2 separate regions of the Homo sapiens genome follow, and region 1 is linked to region 2. Evidence: fine-mapped expression QTL. A gene starts in region 2. The other region holds a variant in brackets. All regions are shown on one strand. Distances are from middle to middle.

Region 1 (8,332 bases), 220 kb after region 2:
TTAGGATACTTACCTGGTTCTAAAGAGAGATACCTTAGTTACATCAGTCAAGTGAACTTGCTCTACAGAAATGACATTAGAACTGAGGCCTGAATGACAAGATGATGCAGCCATTGTAGATCCAGAAGAAGAACATCCAAACAGAAGGAAAAGTAAGTGAACGTTCTTCATATCTGAAAGTATTGAGCAAGTTTGAGGGAGAAAAAGGCCAGTGAACTTCATGGATGAGGCTGAGAGTGGAGGGAGATGATGCTGAACAGGCAGTTGGGACCAGATCATGTAGGGTTTTATAGCTCATGGTAAGAGGGTTTAGCAAAGAGATAAACTTATAATTTATGGCTTTAGAAAGATCAGTCTGGCTACTGCATGAAGAGCTGACTGTAGAGGGAAAAAGTGTGGGCAGGAAAAACATGATAATAGCTTGGAATAAGATAGTCAGCAGTGCAGATGGTGAGAAATAGTCTAATTTGACATATATTTTAGACGTAAAGTCAATAGGACTTGCTGAGAGATTACACATAGGGTTTCAGGGAAATAAAGAATATTAGAATGACTCAATTATTTGCGTTGAACGAATAGCTAGGAGGCCAGGTAGCACTTACTGTGATAGGGAAGACTTGAGGGGAAGGAATTCGGGGTAGAGAAAGACTAAATCAATAGTTTGGTTTGGGTCACAGTTTGTGTGAAGTGCTTTTTACATATACAAGTAGAGTTATGGAGTCTGAAGCTCAAGGGAGAAGTCAGTTAGAGATAGAGATTTGAAGTTTTCTGCGTATAAATGGTATTTTAAAGCCAGGGGACTCAATGAGTTCATCCAAGAAGAGTACAGACAGAATAGAGATAAGAACCCCAGAGCACGCCAAAATCTGATGTCGAGGAGAAACAGCCAGACAAGGAGACAGAAAGGTAAGGACAAACCAGGTGAGTGTGGGATCACAAAGCCTAGAGAAGAAAGTGTTTAAAGAAGTATGAAGGATTGACCATGTCCAATTCAGCTCAATAGTTCAGTTAGCTGAATACACTTCGACCTTGGAAATATGTAGGTCATTGGTGACTCTGATAAAGGCTGTTTAAGTGGAGTGATATAGAGTCTGAAGAAAATTAGAGCAGAGTTGAGGAGAGAAAGGGAGCTAAAGAAGTGGAGACAGGAAATGTAGATCTTACTTTTAAAGGTCTTTTTGTGAAGGCATTAAAGAAAGGGGGTGGTAGTTAAAGGGACATGTAGGGCCAAGGGAGAGCTGGGTTTTTTTTTATTTTTAGTAGTTGTTATAAAGGCATATTTGTATGCTGATGGGTTAGATGTAAAGGAACATCAGAATTTGATGTTGCAAGAGAGAAGCATAGGAAAGGAGATGGGATACAGAGGACAAATGGAAGGGTTGGCCTTAGAAACTATGCCACTTCCTCCACTATAATAAGAGGGAGGTAGTGTATGTGGGCACAGATGCAGGTGGGTTAAGGAAAAATGCAATAACTCTCCTCTGATAGCAAAAAGGAAGGTCATAATCCCAGGGCATGGGATGTGTAGAGCATAGTGGATATTCAAGTAGGGAGCTAAAGGTTTGAAAGAGTTGACCCAGAAACCAAAAAGTGAATTTGCTAAATGTATCATAGGATCCTCTGGCACGGTCCGTTTCAGGTTTGTGATCACAAATTTAAAGTGAACTGATCAGCATGGTTTACAATGTTCTTAACAACATTCCACTGTTTGGATGCAAGCAAAGGAGGAATTAGAGGATATACATTTCACCAGGATTGCAGTTTTGCCAGGTACGATAAAGGGGAAGGCAGCAGAGGAATGGGGGGTATTGGAAGGAGAGAGTTTATGGCACAGAGTAGAAGGAGTCAAGGTTGGAATAAGGTTTAAGGCTACCCAGTAACACAACATCACTGGGCTCCACACATATCCAAAGTGTCTGCCTGGACCCATCGGTATGCCAAGAATTTTCCTTCCCTCCAAAAAGGAAGCTCACTACTGACTTCACCTGGTGCCCGCCACATCTAGAATCCCCCTTCAGGGTTTTGCAGCCAATTAGGAACTGAGTGCTGGGCACCAAACTGGGTAGAAGAGTCACTCCTGAGCGCACACACACTTGCAGTGGAGTCTCAACACTTTATTTAGACCTAAAAGGCTGTGTGGCTGGCAGGAAAATACCCTACACATGCAGAGAGAAGACCTGGGTTTCATCAGTTTCTGTGGCTTTTACCAAATGAGAAAGTTTTTTTCATATCCTGAGCCTCTGTTCCCTCTCATCATAACTCTGGCCTGGCTTAAATTATAGCTGCTTATACAGATCTGATGAGATGGTGAATGTACAACCATTTTCAAGTGTAAAGAATTATGGAGATGTGAGAAATTACATTGTTATTATGACTCGGCAAGGGGGTACCAAATGCAAATCTAAGGCATTTACTGGTGTGAGATTGATTTCAAATGTCAGCTAATATAGGTCACCATGGCTTATAAGCAATTTGCCTTAAAATTAGAAACTTATGAAATGCTCAAGATGAAAGGCAGTACATTTCAAAACAGAGGCAATGGGAAGCAAATTTCTCTCTTTTTTGTGCAACATCCTATGAACCCACGGTTCTCACAGGCCCAGGATATTGCTGCAGTTGGCAGCCTGGTGTATTTTGAACAGCACAGTGCTGATCCCTGGGTAACTCTGTAATCCTGAGTGAGTCACTTTACCTTTGGAGGCCTCAATCGCCTTCTCTGTAAGGTGGGAAGAATTGTACTCCCTCCTGTTCCACTTACAGGGTATCAAGAAGATCATATTATTTTTAAAGGAAAAAAAGAACTGAGAAATACTCTTGGTTACTCTGCAAAGAGGTTGGTGTAAATGTGAAGTGTCACTATTATTAAGTGTGAGGCAATCTTTCCCACCCGCATCATGTCCCAGCATTACAATGTGAGCTGTGTGACAGGCTATTTTTAAATTCCCATCTCTGGAAGCATATGGTCCTGCACAGTGCCAAAAAGAGAAAAATGACCTGCTTCAGTTTGTTTGCTTGTTTGTTTTGATCTGATGGAACATTTTCTATGATCCTGTTAAAGGTTGTTCTTTCTACTTTAAACTTTTAAGGTGAGTGCTAAAGATTTTCTATAGCATAGTCTGAAACACACCGTGGCACTACAACTTGCTTAGACAATGATAAGAGGTCATCCCAGGGCGATGGTGTATTTATACAAATCTGCATTTTTTGTGTATCATCTAAGACTTTTCAAAAATATAGTTTTTTTATTTGTTAACAATTTTTATGCTTTTGTTCTCTAATTTTGGGTAGTTTTGTTTGTTCAGTAGCAGCATTTTTAGGTAAATTTTTTTTTGCAAATAGTAGTGCATTTATTTTATAAAATAAAGCGATTCCTTTTCTTTAATTTTCTTTAATGTTACCTACATAAAAAGAAGTTGTTTCAAAGTTATCCTGATTGTTTATTGTCATTTCTTTTATGTTTTATTAATATCAATTGCTATTGACTGAAGCCCTTTCCCATGACAAATATACAGTATATCTGTTATAAACTTCATTTTTGCTGCCCCCTTGACCTGACCTAACTTTACCTCCTCTCTTGTGCTATTTGGCAAGACTATCCTGAATCTTGTCAAACTTCCCACTCATTGAATTTGATTTCTGACACCAAATTCCTGGAAAGATATCTATCTGATCAGTTGGAAAAGAAAAGAGATAAAAA[C/T]ACCTATTTCACAAGTTTCACGGGACCTGACCTTTGCGCAAGAGCAAAAAATTTCCCCAGTTGAGGTAAATAAGGTTCCCACAAGCTTTTTTTCCTTTTTTCTTTTTCTTTAAGGTCCAGGATTCAACTCTCTTGTCTTTGGGTCAAGTGATAGCTAAAACTAGAATTGATGAAGTTTCATGGCATTTAACCAATGAAAAAGGTAATTTAAAAGGAGGGTGCTAAGGAAAACTCAGAAAGAAAGACAGGGCCTGCATCTTCAGCTAAATGATGAAATCAAGAACACGTAAGAGGAGTTTGAAGTGTTCTGTGTGATCCTGGGGGCCAATAAGAAAGCCAATTGAGGAAATTCACAAAAGCGCAAAATTAAAAAAAAATTATGAAGTTACAGACATATCCAACATTGGGAAGCTCTTCCTTAAGCAGCGGTGACAAAACTCTCCAGCAGTCATGCCGTACCCATAAAGACCTTCTTCAGGCCAGGGCACAGTGGCTCACATCTGTAATCCCGGAACTTTGGGAGGCTGAGGTGGGTGGATTGCTTGAGGTCAGGAGTTCGAGACCAGCATGGCCCACATGGTGAAACCCTGTCTCTACTAAAAATACAAAAATTAGCCGGGTGTGGCGGTGTGCGCCTGTAGTCCCAGCTATGTCAGGAAGTCGAGGCACGAGAATTGCTTGAACCTAGGAGGTGGAGGTTGCAGTGGGCCGATCATGCCACTGCACTCCAGCCTGGGCAACAGGGTGAGACCCTGTCTCAAAAAAAAGACCTTCATCTTCTCTGTCTACTTTATCACCTGGCATCGTCTCACCTCCTCCAACTTCTCCACACCATTAATGATCTCCCCCTCCTCTGTACTTCTAGGGGATTCAGAGGCTCTGGGCATCATTTAAATAGTAAGTACTTCACAGACTTGAGGTGTTACATATCTGTTTTTAGGGGATGTGTCTTGGTCTCCCAACAATGAGTTGTAAGTTCCTGGAGGGTAGGGACCATGTCTCACATTTCTTTTGAACTCCCTTGGTGCTAGCACATTGTTGGGCACAGAAGAGTAGCAACACTCCTTCACATTCATGGCAGGCTTTAGCGTTTACAAAGCACCTCCACCTGCCATTCATGCAATGTTCCCAACAACTAGGTGTTGTCCGCAAGGCAGATAATGAATAGTATCTGATGGGTGAGGAAACTGAGGTTCAAAGAGCTCATTACACCTGCAAGTGCAACAGAATTTATAGTCCAGTGCTCTCCCAGTAATAACCATTAGATGAGTAGATAAAGAACAGATCTTGCAGTTCAAAAATGTGTGGGTAGCCAAAGGGAAGTGGCCACGTATTCGGCTACATGCCCTGTCATGCTGATGTAGATTGACTTCCAATACAGGCTAGAGAATTCTCTTTGTATGGATGGACTCAGTCTGAGTGACACATGGTCCATGTCTCTTTGACTCTGGCCATGTTCTGCAAATGAGATGAGATTCCAATAAGAACCAAGAACGTTTTGGGATGTGTTTCTATGGAAGCCTAGATAGAGATCAGTAATCTCAGACATCACTCTGGGCAACCTCTGGGCCTGTCCATCTTCAGGCATCTAGAAATCTGTGCCCAAGGCAGACAGAAAAGACTGGGTCCTGGAAGAAGCCTCAGGCACCAATTGGACCTCAGTGTTCTTCACTTCTTTAACTGCTAAATTCACCCAATCACATTTAAATAAATTTTATAAGACTTTGAAAATGTGTTTCTGTTCCTCTAGAAATTACCTCTAAATTTTCTAGTATAAACGTCTGCCAGCTTTGTTCAGCCAAGTTCCTTTCCCCCTCTTTTCTTTGACAATGAAAGCAGCTTTGGTGCCAACGCTCAGAACTGGCAGGTGTTTGATGACACATGTTCTGTGATAAATGTTTATTACATAAGTTCATTCAAGCTAGCTACCAGAGCTTTTGAGGCATCATTGCTACTTATCATAAAATTGTCCTTGAAAACCAGAAGCCCAATATATTCCCAAAAGCTCTATTTTTTTTTCTTTCTTCTTTTAGGTTCTCTGTGTTCTATCGACGTCTGGTGCAATGGAGAAGTCAGGAGATGGTACTTGAATCCTGACTCTGTCACAAGCTGGCTGTGTGACCCTGGGAAAGCCACTTCTGTACTCTGAGCCTAGTTGCTCATTTGTAAAATGAGGAGGTGGAAGCTGTGATTGCCAGGGTCTCTCTAATTTCTGACGTATCCCGATAAGAGGACAAACTGGTGGGGAAAAAAAAAAACCAATTTCAGTCAAGCAGAAACACATGCTTGCCTTTCCTTACCCAGAATGTGCTTTACATAACCGAATTTGCTTCCTTTTTTACTGGCTTGCACTCCAGTAAGGAGGCAGGGGAGCAGCACGGCTGGCAGCAGCTTGGAGAGGGTGCAGTGTGCAGGGATGGATGTGGGGAGGGGATGCTGAGGGAGGCTTCGCTGACGAGTGAATGAGGCACAGGCACCATGAACTACTAGAGCTTTGTCACACTTCTTATTACTGTGATTATGTTATATTAGAATGAAAAGACCTGCAGGGTATTTAAAGTGCAAAAACCTAGAGAAGAACTATTAAGAAACTTCCAGTCCCATGATTATTCTAGATAAAGCATTCAGAAACTTTAGTTATGCAAATTAGATTCATTTTTGAAGAAAATACTTACATATTAAGAATTTTACGGCTGGGCGAGGTGGCTCACACCTGTAATCCCAGCACTTTGGGAGGCCGAGGAGGGGGTGAATCACCTAAGGTTAGGAGTTCGAGACCAGCCTGGCCAAAATGGTGAAACCCCATCTCTACTAAAAATGCAAAAATTAGCCGGGCATGGTAGCACGCACCTGTAGTCCCAGCTACTGGGAAGGCTGAGGCATGAGATTCACTTGAACCCAGCAGGCGGGGGTTGCAGTGAGCCAAGATCGTGGAACTGTCCTCCAGCCTGGGTGACAGAGCAAGACTCTGCCTCAAAACAAAAAAAAAAATTTAAAAATTATCAGCTTGATATTTTTTCCTCCAAAACTTTCAACTAGCCCATGCGGAAACATGTTGTAGGTCTTTTCATGCATTAACGTTTGTACCAAAAAAAGCTCACACACTGTTATTGTCTCCATTTTACAGGTGAGAAAACTGAGATGCTAGCAGGCCCAGCACCCTGTCAGAAGATTCAAATCACAGTTGGCAACGTTGAGAGTTAACCCAGATCCCCTTGCCTCCGGGTCTGGAACTCTCTGCTACTGTGCTCTAAGGCATTCTTCCACACTGCTCCACAGAGGGCTTTTCTTGGCCTCAGGCAGAGAGATGAGTAATTATCTGTAAACCGGAATCAGGGTTTATCTCTCTGCTGTCTAAAGTACTAATGTACAATCACAGACTGTCAGAGCAGTAAAGTTCCCTAGATATCATTTAAGTGTTTTTCCTCAGCTGAGTACCTCAGTGGTACTCTCTGGTGCTTTTGAACAAGTTAGTGGCAAAATCAGCACTGAAATCCCTTAACTCCCACTTTATACTATTTATGAGACTTGGTATTAAAAAACAAAGTGAAGCCAGGCATGGTGGCTCACGCCTATAATCCCAGCACTTTGGGAGGCTGAGGCAGGTGGATTGCTTGAGGCCAGTTCAAGACCAGCCTGGCCAACATGGCAAAACTCCATCTCTACTAAAAATACAAAATTTTCTGGGTATGGTGGCACACACCTGTAGTCCCAGCTACTTGGGGGGCTGAGGCAGGAGAAACACTTGAACCGGGAGGCAGAGGTTGCGGTGAGCTGAGATCATGCCACTGCACTCCAGCCTGGGTGACAAAGCAAGACTGTCTCAAAAAAATCAATCAATCAAACAACAACAACAAAACAAACTGATTTAGAAGATCAATCACTAAATAAATAGAGTATCAGGAATTATTTTTTTCAAGTTACTTAATAATCCTGCTGGCCAGGATTGGACAGAGTTAACTTTTGCCTCAATTTCTTCAATGACTTTCATTACCAACCTCACCAATATCATGTAGAGGGACTGAGGCAGAAGGAACTGTTACTGCCTATGAGTCATCCATTCTTGACCTTCAGCATGTTTTGAAAATGTGTTGTGAAATGCTTAACAATCAATAATTCCATCACCAGGCAGTATGAGGCTGGGAGTTATGCAACAGGCGGAACAGGGCATTACTGCTACATCATTCAGGAGACTCCAAATATCTGTTGTGCTCAGAACCCTCAGCAGGACCTAAAGACACAAAGTACCCATAAAAGTTATTTTTTTTTTAAAAAAAAAAACAAAGAGAAGATGGAAGACAGAGGAGAAGTGAAAGTAGACTTCTTTCCTTGCATTGGATCAGTAAAGTGGGACTAGCAGTTAAGTGTGGATACTCTCAAGCTAGCATGTCTGTTCTTTTCTGTCAATGGCTAAGTCACACTCCAATGTTACACTGCTGCTAGGCAACTCTTCTCTGCGCCCTAGACAGTGGCTTCATCTCCAGACATTGCAAGTGTCCTAGGTGAAGGTAGCTAGTACAAAGGAAAGGAGCACAGAACAAGGAGGTGAAGACCCAGTTCAAGTCCCTGGCTGCCACTTACAGGCCTATGACACTGAGAGTGGTCACATTACCTGTCAGATCTCCAGGCCCTTCT
Region 2 (8,332 bases):
ACAGGGACAGGAAGATGGTGTGTTCGAAGCGGGTTATTTGTGGTTTTTCTTAGTGCAAATAGATGCTCATCGCTGAGTGATGGGCAAGCAGCGAGGCCTTTCTGATTTTCATCCCTCTTGCCAAAACTTTGGAGGTTGTATGCCATCCCCATTGGAGGGTGCCCTCCTTCTGTCAGTCCTAGCATCTGGTCAGGGTACCGCCGCCCGGGAGGTGGAACGGCGAGCCCACCGCCCATGGCCGCGAACTCGATCTCAGCCCACCGCTAGGTGGCAGGCCAGCCCGTCCGAGAATCGCCGCGCGGCCGCAGCTTCCACACCGATCCCTACCCGCCCCTCTTTATTTTCTGTCTGGTGGGGGCGAGGGTTGGGGGTGTGATTGCCTCTAAAAGCAAAGCTAGAAAACATTTAATTTAGTGTATGTAATTCCGTTCCTCCCGATGCTCCCGCCTCTAGCAACCACAACGCGGTATCTGGAGCTGGTTTCATGTATCATAAGTTGATTTCTCCCCCAGCCTCCGAAAAGCTTTATGTACTGGGAAGGGAAAGAAGGTGCACTTGTCTTCAAAAGGCAGAATGGCACTCGACAGTATTGGCAGAGATTCTTGCCAAACACTGGTCATCCAGCAAAGAAAGTCGGGAATAAACTCCTGATCTTCTCGGAGGAAAGGGGCGCTGGGGGCCGAGTGCTGGATCCCACTCAGGCTCACTGCGCCTGGCAAAGCGGGGGAGTGGGGAGTCGGGTATGGTCTTTTGGTGAAGTTGTGGGTCTCGGAGTGGACATCGGGAGGGTTGGGAGGGGCCGTTCCTGGTTTCCACTGGGGCAAAGAGAAACCAGCCAGTTCTGCCACCACGCTGCACCCTCGCTGTGCTCGCGGCGGCAGCGGCGGTCCCACTTGTTGCGCAGTGCTGGAAACCGGCACGCGCCATTCGATGTTGATTCACAGAGGGCTACAGACCAGCCTACCATTGCTCCACGCCATCCACAAACCTCCTCAACACACCCCCTACACATACGTCCTGCCACCGCCGGCAAAACTACAGCATTTCCAGCCACTATGGTGTTTTACACCAAAACATCCCTCACTATCTCGGTATCAGACAGGCAGCAGAATTAAGATGCCCTGAGAAGTCAATCCAAGGGGAAGGCCGGGCTACCTCCGCCTGGAGAACTCTTCTACTTAAAATCAACCAGGCACCCTCCCCCCACCAAAAAAAAAAACCTTAGAACCACGTTGCCTATTATAACACCATCCTAGTTGGAAAGCAACATTTTTCTTCCCTACTTGATAAACTTCAAAGTCCTTTTTATCCGTTAGTTTTATCTCCCCTATTTTTTTTAAATCTCTGGGGGAAAAATGTTTCATAAGTTCACTTCCCAATATTTTTCAAAAATTGACTTTTGCCAATAGTTTCACCCACCGAGGGGTGGCGCTGCTGCACCGCCTCCTCTATATCTCTTAAGTTTTTCACAACAAAGTGGGTTGTGAGTGTCATTACCCTGTAGGGGATAGAGGGAAGGAAGGGTTTTGACATCTAGCCGTGGCTACCATTTACTCAACCAATAACTGGAACTCTTCAAGGGCTCAGCAAACGACAACTTAAGCATTTAGAGTCCCATCCCTATCCACCAAACCCAGAATAAGTTAGTCTTTTCAAGAAAGCATTGGTATAAAACCCTTCAAAACTGAAAAGAAGAAAGGGGCAATTGGAGAATTCCCACTTTTTCTGGCTGTCTCCTTCAAGTCGCCCAGTTTTTATGAACAGCATCTAGCCTTACTGTCACTATCAACAACCCTTAAAACTAGCCAATGCTTCGGCCTCTAGTATTGGAAAGTCTTCCAAATAGGATACTGGAAACTTCTATTTATAAGCTTGGGGTGGCGGGCGGGGCGGGGAGGTGGAGAGAGAGTTGCCATCTACAGGTTTCTATTTTGGCCTGAAGACTCAACTGCAGTCATTAGAGTAAGGGAATGCCCATCTCCTGGTACTTGTTCGCCATTTCCTCCTCCCCCAGAGACAAATATCTTTTCGTCTTTTTTAAAAAAGTATATATTTTAAAGCAAGAATGTGATTTCATCTCTCTTCTTTGAGCTCATGTTTGCTACCTCCAGGAATAGCGTGTGGACTAGGGCCAGATGAACTTCAACTTGGGCTGCAGATTTACGAGGTTCTGTTCTAGTGCCAAAGGCTCTTGGTAGTAAATAGTGAGCAAAATAGATACCTGTCTCCTGATGGATCTTGCCGCCCCCTCTTTTTTTTTTTAAGTTATTTATTAAAACCACACACACCTTGCAAAGAAAAAGGGAAACTGGCAGTCTCTGTAGAGGAAGCCGGTGGCATCGCTCAGAGCCACAAACTGTATTTCTAAACAGCCCTTTCCCTGGTTCCCTCTCTCCTGCCCCACTTTTTTTAAAATCCAGACTGTAAAAAACACATCTACTGACACTCACTTTACTTTAAAAAAAGAAGAGAAAAAGTAAAGCGTTACAAGACTTTCCTCCTGGAAACTATAAACTGAAAAAAAAATCCATAAAAGATTAAATCCTGGCGGGTTGTGGGGTGGCGGGGGCCGGCGGGGAGGGGGCGCGGAGTGGAGATTGGCTCTCTGAGGTGGTCAGGGGCCCTGTGACAGCTTGGGACTTTCAGCACCTGGTTTGGGGTCATTTATCTGCTCAACTGTCAGGACCCCCCACCCCCAAACCCCAGCCACCAACACAACCATCGTAGAAGGGAACACAACACAGAGGGTCTTTTTTCATTTTTTTAAAAAATCGGTTTGGTTGTGTTTTTGTTTTCCATGGGGGAGCTTTAAAACTCATTATTGCAACACTAGTTCCATTTTTCGCCAGGGTTCCAATAACACGGCATCATAAAGGCAACGCAACCCACAGTTCTCAAGACATTTACCACGGTCACTACATCCGGCAGCGGGGTGGCCCCTAGCTCCTGCTGCCCCCCCGCCCTTTCTCCCCGCCCGCCCCCGGAGCTCAGCCGATTTCTGAGGCTCCAACTCTACCCACTCCCTCCCCGGGCCGCCGCCGCCGCGCCTTCCCCCATTCTTACTCCCTCGAGGAGAGCCACAGGTTGCAAATCCAACCAACCTCGCAATCTATTTTTGCAAAATCACTCACAAAGATCTCCCTTTCGCGCCCGCGCCCGCTCCTCCCGCGCCGGGTCCCCTCAGCCACGGCCACAAAGTGCCCTTCTCTCCTCCTGAGTCTTGCACATAAGGAACGCGGGCTGGGGCTCTGTTCGTCTTTCTCCTCGCCCAAGGTAAGGACCTCGGGAATCTGAAGCCTGGCGTCCACTACGCTCAGGCCCGCAGTTCCCTTTTTACAGAGCTTGCACCATGGGAAAAAATAAAATAAAATTTAGGAAAGGGAGGCAACAGCCATTGGGAGCCAACACAGAGTCACGCAGCGCCCAAAATACAAACACCGCAGCGGCCAGAAATCCCGCCACCTTTCTCGTTCTCCCAGGCTGTCCTGTCGAGGTTCCCTGAGTCCCCCCGCACACTGAAAGGCATCGCAGGTGCAGTGCGCACCCCTTTCCCACCCACCCCAAGAAGCCCTGTCCCGCCATCAGTCTCTCTCCTCGGGATGAGCAGGGAGAGCGCGCGGAGGTTCCCGACTCCCTCGACTACAACCAAGAAAGAATAATTTTCAAAGTGTTCAACATCCCCGCCCCCAAGCTCCCCAAAACACAGGGGCAGGGAACACCAAAACACTCGGCTCTCATTAGGAAGATCACGGCTCTGAAAGGAAATAGTAGACACGATACTTCATCTCATCTGGATTTATGACCAAAAAAACAAAAACAAAAACCCAAAGAGTTCGCTTGCATTTTTTCCTTCCAAATCTCGGTTCGGCTCGAAGGCAGGGAATCTAAAAGACCGAGGCCGATGGAAGAGAGCCAGCGGGGCGAGCGAGCGGGCAGCCTCCCTTTTTGCCTCCCGGAGTTACCCAGAAGGACAGGGGAAGGGAAGGAAGAAGAGGCGAGGAAAAAGAGGAGGGAGGGAAGCGGAGGCCAGGAGCGACGGAGCAAGGAAAGCAGTTTGCAAGCGAGAAAAGAGGGAAAAAACACAGCCGCACGAATCCAGAGAGATCACAAGCCGTACGCAAGCAGCAGCAGAAAGAGCGAGAGCGCGAGCGCGCGTCCTCTCCGCGGTCTGGGGCCAGACAGCCCCCAGACTAGCCCGAATCACCCCCCAAGCACTGTCTCGTCCTCTCTGCTCCGGCCGCCCCCTAATTCCCCTCCTTCCTCTCCTCCACCTCCTTTCCAAAAACCAAAACAACACAAGGGAGGGTGGCAAAAGCCTCCCCAAACCGGCCGATTCACTCAAAGACAACAATAATAATAATAAATACATAACAATCTATATCCTATGGTGGGAGAGACGTGGGACTAATCTTCGGCATTTATTTTAACACCTGACAGCTAGAATAAATAAATATATACATTTATATCAATAGATACACATAGAAAACTTGGAGCCAAAGCATTTGGCAAGAGCGGAAAAAAAAAGAATTAAAAGGTAAAATAATGATCATGAGCAGCGGCGGCGGCAGCGGCACCAGCGGCAACAGCGGCGGCGGCGGCAGTAGCAGCAGCAGCGGCGGCAGCAACAGCAATAATCACCTGGTGTCCGGCCTTTCCTAGAAACTTCTTGCATCACCACTTCTAAGAACCCCAGTTCTAAGAATCAACAGAGCTCAATTCTCGGAATTTGAGCTTCGGACTTTACCACTGCTACGTGGCAGGGGAGGACTTGGTGTCAGCTCTCCGAGATTTTTACTGCCCCTGGCCAACCAAAAGCCCTCAAAGCCACAAGATTTTTTCACTGGCCGGCATATTTCGAGGTCCTCATAAGCAGAGCGTCTCGGATTTGGAGGTTCCGGTTCGAGGCTCGAGGGGCCTGAAGGTGGCTCTCCCTCCCCGGGCCCAAGACGATGGTATGGCCTGCTCCGCCACCATCACGTGGGCTCCTCCTCTGTGACGTCGGCGCCTTCGCTGTAGCAAAGCTCGGCCTCTGGAATTCTGAGAACTAATTTGCTATTCGGTGACATAAGAGGGGGAGTGCGCTTTGCTTTCCCGGGGTCTGGGGCTAATTCCTTCTTTCTTACCCATAAACTCAGCAGATCGAGCTAAATGCACAAAAGGGAGCGAGAGGTTTGAACCACTGGGAAAAGTATGTTATATATATAGTAGGGTTAGAGAGGCGAGTAAGAGAAAAATAAAATAAAATAAACATCACAGCTCTTTCCAACTAGAATATTAGGCACCACGAGAAAAATATTTGCCAAGCAGTTTTCGGTGGGTTCATTTGCTTTATTTTTATTTAGGACAGGGGTTTTTGCTGTTGTTCTGGGTTTTTTTCTTTCTGGTGTGGTGGCTTGGGATTTTTGGTTTCTGTATTTTGATGGTTTATGGATTTTTGCTTCTGATTTTTTGCCTTTTGCAAGTTTGTGGTGTTACGTAAATCACAGGATCGGCATCGGTTGGATTTTTTTGTACGTGCCTTTTCTTTCCCTATCTAATCCCTCAAGCGTTTTAAAGATGTATTATTTCAATACTAATACTATTGAAAGAAGCTTAAATTTTTGGCCATATGTAACAATCCCAGCCCCCACTTTTTTTTTTTTTTTTTCCTTTGGTGCAATTTTCTTTTTCCCCCTTGGACTTTTGCTGAAGTGTGTCTCTCCTGCACTTCAGAGAAATGTTCAAAGGATTTGTTTTGGTTTGGTTTGTTTCTTTCCAGGACAGCAAGTGGTGGGTTTAATCTGTTATTGTTGACTCTTGGGAAATTTCTTGTTGCAAGAAACGTGTGTGTGGGGGGGAGGGTGGGGGTGGCGGGGTGGTATGTGTGTGTTTTCTACAAAATTCTGTGAGCCAAATACCTGTTTGTGTTTTGTTTTCTCTTAAGGTCTTGAGATTTTTGTTTTCGAGGCTCGTTTCAAGGTCGTTGTAAAAAAATCTCTTCAGTCTGTGTTTAAGAGATCAGCCGGAGGGAATTCTAAAGGCCTGCCGTGCCAGTATCACAGATACTGCCTGTATTTAGAACAGACTGCCACAACTACAATGCACTACACGCAGCACAGTCTTCTTAGCTTTGAAGCTGAGTTGGGGGGTGGGGTGGGGGGGGGGTAGAGAAGAAGGAGAAATTCTTTCCTTCTCTTTTTCTCTATTACTTTCTTTTTAAAGGCAATTGCAGTGCAGAATCATTTCATTGTGGGTCCTAGTTTGTTTGTTCAGAGCTGCTAGTTTCCTTATTTAAATGTTGGTTCGGGTTTTTTCCCCTCCTACTCATCCCTGAATAAGGGAGACTCTTGTTTCTTTTATGTCTCTCTCTTAAAAGAAGGGTGTGAGGGGAAAATAATATTTCAGATTCCTCAAGAATTAGCCCAAAATGTTTGGACCAGAAGCAGCTTTCAAAGGTCAGGCTGTTCTGAGCCTTGGCTATGAGAGTCCTTCAAGCGACTTATTAAATTACAGATGAATTCTTAAAGCTTCCACAAAATCTCGTCACTTGTTAATTTCTAATAAAGATATGTCTAAAATAATCTACCTATCTCAACCCAAAATTTGGGTTTATAATGGAGGAGTGATCAGAGCTGTGAAAGATTGCTGTTTGCTGGGATATTTGGAAAATCTCTTTCATTGACAGTCCCGTAAGAAGTTCCATCTATCACCGAAAATGTTGTTGGCAATGCACCCCCCTACCCCACAACACACACACATTTTTAAAGGCTGTATTTTAGGTTTTAAAACCCAGAAAGGTGCAAAGAGGTTGATTATTTTCCACAAGGGCTGGAGCTTAGGAAATATGCGTTAAAGTGTCTGTCCCTGTGAAATCTGAATATTTTAATACTTATTGACAGATGGATTACTGCAGCCTCTGCAGAAAAGCCTGTCTTGTGAACGGTTTTTGAAAAATATACATAGGCCTAATCCTGTCACTGTTGTTGAAATGTACGTTTTACCCCCAAAGACACATGATATTGTCAAGTTCAGATTTATTCTGCCAGAAGGCAGACTATCTGCTTTTTCATTTGAGTCCCCTTCCTTCTCATTTTCAAAGAAATTAAAATGAATCCCGCTGGATGCAAAATGACACCCCGATTTTGTGGAAGGGATTTTCTTTGTGTGTTTATATGTGTAATTTTTTCTTTTATGAGCAATTAGCACTTTAGGATTTCTCAGACGTATCTATATGGTTTGGAATGTGAATTGTATGGCTCTGCCTTACTATTGGGCCCTCAAAAGATTATTTTTATGATTTTTGGTCACTTTTTTCTTTGTCAAAACTGCCATTCAGCCTCATCCACCGCCCCCCTCAACCTGAAACACAGCTTGTCCCTCCTGTGTTCCCTTTGCCACTCCACTCTTAGCCCCATGGGGGCGCTGCAGAGCAAAGGGAAATCTGCTCTCTAAGGCAGTAGTAGAACCAGCCAGAGTGGGGGCTGGGAAGGAATTCACCCTTCTCATACCTCAGCCCTCTTTAATTCTCTGCAGTGAGCCCCTAGAGGGAGAACCCACCAGGGCTGGTTCATATATAATTAACCTCATCACCAGGGACCTCAAATCTTCCCAGCATATTATTTCTGGGACCAAGTGCCAGAGTGCCACATTTTCCTACTGCTTTTTGCCAAATCAATGTGTTTACACTGAAAGAAATTGACCAGAACAGAAGACCAGTTAGAAAGAAAGAGAAAATCATTATTGAAAATTTTCTAAAGATAGGCACTTACTTTTCGGTGAGTCTCTTTTACTTTGAACTGAATGAATGGTGAGGAAAATTGTGCACCCGCCTCTCAATCTCTTTTCAATTCCTAGGAAAGTAACTTTGTCAAATATTATACCAGTTGAATTTCTTCCAGAATGTCATTTCTTCTTTCATTCTTGACCTCTCCTCAGTATCCAGTTGGCATCACTATGTGGGCCTCCCTCACTCCCGCAGTGCCGTGTTACAGGATTAAAGAAAGGGCTGACTTGAACGTATTCTGATTCTTTTAAATCATCCTTAAGAAGCTCTAAAGAGTGATTCCATGTCTGGGGTCGTATGAATAATTCCTGCAGACTTCGGGGCACTACATTTCAACTAGTCCCATGATTTAATGGTTACTGGCTGCTAATACTCAGTAGAGGACCAGGCCAACCTCTTTGCCTCATGGACTGGGCATAAGAATAGGTCCCTGATCATTGCTGCTGGGTAAATATAAGCTTTATTACAAAATAAAATAGCCTGGTCCTAATATTACATCTATTTGAGGAAAAGAACAGACTTCACATCCAATTCCCCCTTGCAAAACCTTCCCCACAATTCAGTCATAGC

Evidence for each region.
Region 1: its variant is fine-mapped to the expression of BCL6 in whole blood (TOPMed, PIP above 0.99).

What each region holds. Positions count from the first base shown.
Region 1 is chr3:187,961,275-187,969,606 of GRCh38, forward strand. LINC01991 (long intergenic non-protein coding RNA 1991) reads right to left here. Exons shown (of 3, transcript NR_135538.1): 2 at 5,455-5,935. Among named protein-coding and RNA genes, the nearest start is that of LINC01991, 11 kb to the right of the region's middle. The variant C/T (reference allele first, on the strand shown) is at 3,698.
Region 2 is chr3:187,740,772-187,749,103 of GRCh38, forward strand. BCL6 (BCL6 transcription repressor) reads right to left here and starts at 4,697. Exons shown (of 10, transcript NM_001706.5): 1 at 4,639-4,697. BCL6-AS1 (BCL6 antisense RNA 1) reads left to right here and starts at 2,898. Exons shown (of 2, transcript NR_173091.1): 1 at 2,898-3,273; 2 at 4,473-5,255. RefSeq lists enhancers at 418-919, 920-1,419, 3,810-4,335.